Linked DNA regions of Homo sapiens. The protein of the gene in region 2 interacts with the protein of the main gene of each other region in a pairwise test. Each region holds a gene or a part of one and is shown on either strand. Other genes may lie near its edges.

The links. Proteins that work in one complex are often made in the same cells at the same time.
Region 1: the proteins of SHMT1 (region 2) and SULT1A3 interact in a two-hybrid assay, tested with the Homo sapiens proteins (one large-scale study listed by BioGRID).

What each region holds. Positions count from the first base shown.
Region 1 is NC_000016.10:30,198,110-30,202,054, forward strand, and holds the start of SULT1A3 (sulfotransferase 1A3), read left to right. Parts: upstream 1-1,145; 5' UTR 1,146-1,218; intron 1,219-2,615; 5' UTR 2,616-2,619; coding exon 2,620-2,767; intron 2,768-2,871; coding exon 2,872-2,997; intron 2,998-3,086; coding exon 3,087-3,184; intron 3,185-3,945. UniProt on the Homo sapiens protein: Sulfotransferase that utilizes 3'-phospho-5'-adenylyl sulfate (PAPS) as sulfonate donor to catalyze the sulfate conjugation of phenolic monoamines (neurotransmitters such as dopamine, (R)-adrenaline/epinephrine, (R)-noradrenaline/norepinephrine and serotonin) and phenolic and catechol drugs.
Region 2 is NC_000017.11:18,327,373-18,329,961, reverse strand, and holds the end of SHMT1 (serine hydroxymethyltransferase, cytosolic), read left to right. Parts: intron 1-573; coding exon 574-684; intron 685-1,042; coding exon 1,043-1,212; 3' UTR 1,213-2,089; downstream 2,090-2,589. UniProt on the Homo sapiens protein: Interconversion of serine and glycine.

The DNA.
Region 1 (3,945 bases), on a different chromosome or scaffold from region 2:
GGCTGGAGTGCAGTGGTGTGATCTTGGCTCACTGAAACCTCCGCCTCCTGGGTTCAAGTGATTCTCTTGCCTCAGCCTCCTGAGTAGCTAGGATTACAGATGCCCGCCATCATGCCCAGCTAATTTTTGTATTTTTAGTAGAGACAGGGTTTCACCATGTTGGCCAGCTTGGTCTCGAACTCCTGACCTCAGGTGATCCTGCTGCATCGACCTCCCAAAGTACTGGGATTACAGGCGTGAGCCACCACGCTCAGCCTCTTTCTTGTTCTATATGTCCATGCTCTGCTCCACTTCTGCCCCTTCACTCTGCCCCCACACATCACTCCAGACTGGCCTTGTGGTCAGAGCCTGGAATGCCTGGGCTGCTGGGGGCCTGTGGACTGCACTGGGCCAGAACCCCTGCCGCCTTCAAGACTGGCCTGTAGCCAGCAGGTAGGTGACTTTTCCCAGGCCGGCCTATCCCACCTTTCCCCTCCACTCACTCACCTCCCTTGCCTGGGTCAATTAGAGAAAGCTTGTCGGCCAGGCATGGTGGCTCATGCCTGTAATCTCAGCACTTTGGGAGGCCGAGGCGGGCGGATCATCTGAGCTCAGGAGTTTGAGACCAGCCTGGCCAACATGGCAAAACCCCGTCTCTACTAAAAATACAAAAATTAACCGGATGTGGTGGTGTGCACCTGTAATCCCAGCTACTCGGGAGGCTGAGGCAGAAGAATCGCTTGAACCCAGGAGGGGGAGGTTACAGTGAGCGGAGATCGTGCTACTGCATTGCAGCCTGGGCGAGAGAGCGAGTCTCCATCTCATATAAAAAAAAGAAAAAGAAAGAAAGAAAGCTTGTCTGTTGGCCTGCCCTGCAGGGTGGAGTTCAGAGGGAAGGTCAGGAGCCTAGTGACAGCTCAAAAAAAAAAAAACCCAAATACCAATGTTGGCCCCTTTTGCCTTTCATTCATGTGTTTTCTATACACTAAACTCACATATTGGGTTTGCAGATCACTCCAAGCTTGGCTGGAGCTGTGGTGGTAAGGAGGGTAATAGAGAAGCTTCCCCACCCTCAACCCCACCCCTTCCTTCCTGGAGTTCCCAGCCCTGACTTTAGATCCCTCCCACACTGGACCTTCAAAACCCTCAGGGCAGAGAGCAGCCCTACACTCCCTACACCACACCCATACTCAGCCCCTGCAGGCAAGGAGAGAACAGGTCAGGTTCCCGAGAGCTCAGGTGAGTGACACGTTGGAATGGCCCAGGGCACCTTCACCCTGCTCAGCTTGTGGCTCCAACATTCTAGAAGCCGAGGCCTCTGCCATCCCTGCCCTTTCCCATGGATATTCCATTTCAATTAGACAACCCAGCCTGGCCGGAATCCCCCTGCGTTCCTTCTTTTCCTTTGTGTATTTTTGAGACAGGGTGTTGCTCCGTCACCCAGGCTGGAGTGTAGTGGGATCCTGGCCCACTGCAGCCTCAAATTCCTAGGCTGAGGCAATCCTGCCGCCTCAGCCTCCTGAGTAGCTGGGGTTACAAGAGCAAGCCACCACACCCAGCTAATTTTGAAAAATATTTTTTGTAGAGGAGAGGTCTTGCTTTGTTGTCCAGGTTGGTCTCAAACTCCAGGGCTCAAGGGATCCTTTCCCGTTGGCCTCCCAAGGCTCTGGGATTACAGGCGGGAGTCACCCTGCCTGGGCCCCTCCTTTTGATGAGTCATCAGTTTTCATTCCCGCACGAGGCTCTAGCCCCTGGTACCAGCTTAGTTGCTCAATGGGCTGTGTTTGTTCTGGAGCCCAGATGGACTGTGGCCAGGCAAGTGGATCACAGACCTGGCCGGCCTGGGAGGTTTCCACATGTGAGGGGCATGAGGGGGGCTCAAGGAGGGGAGCATCGGGGAGAGGAGCGCACTGGGTGGAGGCTGGGGGTCCCAGCAGGAAATGGTGAGACAAAGGGCGCTGGCTGGCAGGGAGACAGCACAGGCAGGCCCTAGAGCTTCCTCAGCACAGCTGGACTCTCCTGGAGACCTTCACACACCCTGATATCTGGGCCCCGCGCTACGAGGGTGCTTTCACTGGTCTGCACTATGCCCCAGGCCCTGGGATTTTGAACAGCTCTGCAGGTGACTGAAAGGTGCGGCCAGGCTGGGGAACGACCTGGTTTCAGCCCCAGCCCCGCCACTGACTGACTTTGTGAGTGCGGGCAAGTCACTCAGCCTCCCTAGGCCTCAGTGACTTCCCTGAAAGCAAAAACTCTGCAAAGGGGCAGCTGGGTGCTGGCTCACACCTGTAATCCCAGCACTTTGGGAGGCTGAGGTAGACAAATCACTTGAGGCCAGGAGTTCTAGACCAGCCTGGCCAACATGGTGAAACCCCATCTCTACTAAAGAAAAAAAAAAATTAGCTGAGCATGGTTGTACATGCTTGTAATCCCAGCTACTTGGGATGCCGAGGCGGGAGGATTGCTTGAACCCAAGAGGTGGAGTTTGCAGTGAGCTGAGATTGTGCCACACTGCACTCCAGCTTGGGTGAGAGTGAGACTCCATCTCAAAAAAAAAAAAAAAAAAGAGAGAATCCCACTTTCTTGCTGTTGTGATGGTGGTAAGGGAACGGGCCTGGCTCTGGCCCCTGATGCAGGAACATGGAGCTGATCCAGGACACCTCCCGCCCGCCACTGGAGTACGTGAAGGGGGTCCCGCTCATCAAGTACTTTGCAGAGGCACTGGGGCCCCTGCAGAGCTTCCAAGCCCGACCTGATGACCTGCTCATCAACACCTACCCCAAGTCTGGTAAGTGAGGAGGGCCACCCACCCTCTCCCAGGCGGCAGTCCCCACCTTGGTCAGCAAGGTCGTGCCCTCAGCCTGCTCACCTCCTATCTCCCTCCCTCTCCAGGCACCACCTGGGTGAGCCAGATACTGGACATGATCTACCAGGGCGGCGACCTAGAGAAGTGTAACCGGGCTCCCATCTACGTACGGGTGCCCTTCCTTGAGGTCAATGATCCAGGGGAACCCTCAGGTGCATGGCTGGGTCCTGGGGGTAAGGGAAGTGGAGGAAGACAGGGCTGGGGCTTCAGCTCACCAGACCTTCCCTGACCCACTACTCAGGGCTGGAGACTCTGAAAGACACACCGCCCCCACGGCTCATCAAGTCACACCTGCCCCTGGCTCTGCTCCCTCAGACTCTGTTGGATCAGAAGGTCAAGGTGAGGCCGGGCTCAATGGTTCACACCTGTCATCCCAGTTTGAGACTGAGGAGGGAGGATCCCTTGAAGGCGAGAGATGGAGACCAGCCTGGGCAACATTGCTGTAGAGATGACATCCCATCTCTACAAAAATAAAATTAACAACCTGGTATGGTGGCATAGACTGTTCCCAGTTACTTAGGAGGCTCAGCGGGGAGGACTGTTTATGCAAATAGGAAGCTGCAATGAGCCCTGATGATCCTGCTGCTGCACTCCAGCCTGGGCAACACAGCAAAACCATCTCTACGAAAAAAAAAGTTCCCACTGACTGGCAAGGAAAGCCAGGAAGGGGGGCTCAGGTGCCCTCTCAGCCATGTACCTGTTCTTCTGGAAGGGCCTCCTCGCTTCTGCCAGGCTCATCACATCTTTTTTTTTTTTTGAGACAGAGTCTTGCTCTGTCACCCTGGCTGGAGTGCAGTGGCATGATCTCAGCTCACTGCAACCTCCGCCTCCCCAGTTCAAGTGATTCTCCTGCCTCAGCCTCCTGAGTAGCTGGGATTACAGGCGTGTGCTACCACACCCGGCTAATTTTTGTATTCTTTTTAGTAGAGACGGGGTTTCACCATGTTGGTCAAGTGGATCTCAAACTCTTGACCTTGTGATCCTCCTGCCTCGACCTCACAAAGTGCTGGAATTACAGGCGTGAGCCACCGCGCCTGGCCCTTTTTTTTTTTGAGACAGTTTCACTCTTGTTGCCGAGGCTAGAGCGCAATCGTGTGATC
Region 2 (2,589 bases):
TGAACCCAGGAGGCAGAGGCTGCATTGAGCCGAGACTGCGCCACTGCACTCCAGCTTAGGCGACAGTGAGACTCCGTCTCAAAAAAACAAAAACAAAAACAAAAAATGGAGCGGGGGCAGGGACCATACCTTGGCTGTCTCTTGGCTGTGCCTTTGTACTTGGCCCTGACCCTGCCAGGGAGCAAAAAGACTGATGTAGAGCTGTTGGAGGTGGTACATTCATCAGATGAGGGAGGTCAGGGCCTCCGGAATCCAGAGGCTGCATTTCTCTGTGGGTTGTTAACAAAATATTGATGACGCATCTCAGACCCAGACAGATGTTACCCTCATTTTTAGGAGCAAGGGGCACATCAGACCACTTTGTGTACTAGTAATTAAGTCAGAGTGGCCAAACGTGGTTGTGCCTCCTTGTGCCTTGGGTTCTACTTTAGTTTCTGAATCAGTTGTACTCCTTGCTAGGGACAGCCAGTATCCTCAGGCCAGTTCTCTTTTGCCCACATGTCCCTTTTTAAATGCACCACCATCACAGTGGTGACAATGTGACTTAGGGACAGAGCCCCGTTTATCTTGTAGGTGACAGAAGCGCTCTGCGGCCCAGTGGACTGCGGCTGGGGACCCCAGCACTGACGTCCCGTGGACTTTTGGAAAAAGACTTCCAAAAAGTAGCCCACTTTATTCACAGAGGTAAGGATAAAAGTTTGGAAGTTGCCACATCTTATTGTGTGTATTTAGTTTCTGATTGTGATGAGTAGCTGAGACCCTGCCACTGAAAGACAATTCTGCACCAAGGCTGAGTGTTGGGGTGGGAGACAGCAAAAAACACATGTAAATCACCTTGTCTGAGAGGGTTATAAATTTGGGCTGCCCAGGACATCTGTCCAAGGGTGGGTGCATCTCAGAGTAATTGAGGTAAGCATGGAGACCTTGTGCCCTGCCACACTCCCCAGCTGGGGGACATTCTGACATTTGTGCCTCGGCCCCCAGCCATTGTACCCCCTTTGGTGTGTAGTGTGGGGTGACTCATTTGTGTCTTGTGGCACAGGGATAGAGCTGACCCTGCAGATCCAGAGCGACACTGGTGTCAGAGCCACCCTGAAAGAGTTCAAGGAGAGACTGGCAGGGGATAAGTACCAGGCGGCCGTGCAGGCTCTCCGGGAGGAGGTTGAGAGCTTCGCCTCTCTCTTCCCTCTGCCTGGCCTGCCTGACTTCTAAAGGAGCGGGCCCACTCTGGACCCACCTGGCGCCACAGAGGAAGCTGCCTGCCGGAGGACCCCCACCTGAGAGATGGATGAGCTGCTCCAAAGGGGAACTGTTGACACTCGGGCCCTTTGAGGGGGTTTCTTTTGGACTTTTTTCATGTTTTCTTCACAAATCAAAATTTGTTTAAGTCTCATTGTTAGTAATTCTGGGACAGGTTATTAAAGGATTTAAATTTGAACCTGGCTTTCTCACAGCTGGACATAATTCTAGGAAAATAAAATACTATGTCGCCACTTGGTCATAATCATTTAGATGGTGGTGTAGGGCAAAGCTGTTAGAAAGATTGTAGCGTTTTACTCTCCCTGGGCTTTCCTCCGCCTTGCTGCAACAGAGAGGAAATGCCCATGTCCACAGCTTGTACACACTGCCCCCTCACTATCTTGTTATCCAGTGGCATGCCAAAGGAGAACTGAATTAGCTTCTGAGGCTTCTGCTGTAAATCAGAAGTGTATGTTAGTCAAGAGTAAACAAGATGCACCCAGTATGGTGGGAGGGTTTTGCTGTCAGTAGCTCAAAGTATGGTGTAGAAATGGCCTCCTCCCTCCATCCTGGGAAGTCCCAGTCCCATCCTGGTGTGAGAATCAACCAGGCTTTCCTGCTCCACCTGAGATAACCAACTCCCTCCCGTAATCAGGAAGCCAAATGTCACCTTCCCAAAGAAATTTTATTTTCACGTAGCTGAAGTGCAAAACATAGATGACCATTTTTAATAAGCACAATCAAATTTTTAACCACAGAATGTCTACAAGAATTATAGCTTTAAAAAATACAACCAATTTTTATATTTCAAAAATATTTGAACTCAAATAAATTAATTTCTTAAAAAGTACACTTCTCATACTATGTGTTTGGCATTGACTCTGGTTAACTCTTGTGCAGCAACACCTACGAGATGCTATCACACACGCGCCAGCTGCACTCCTGCACCAGCCGCTGCAACGACTGCACCTCACGTGGTGGCGGGGACTCACATTCACAAGACGGGACGGGAACATGCAGTAATAAAATAGCTTTTTAAAAAATAACACATATAAATTCATCACATAGGATTATGCTTTTCACTGCAACCTTGAAGGTGGCATTTATCTCAATCTGTGACTCCAGCTATTTAGTGGCAGACAATCCCGGTGAGGCAGCCTGTGGTCCCACCTTGTAGGTGGCAGCCCCTGCAATCTGGGGTCTAGCCTGTCGGCGTTTGCTTTATTGTGGGTGGAGCAGCTGCTGCAGAATCTGTGAGTTGACTCACCAGTCCCTACAGTTCTGCTACCAAAGTGGTCTTCAATTTAGGGGCCTGACCCCTCCCCAGCTGGAGACAAGCTGCCATCTCCA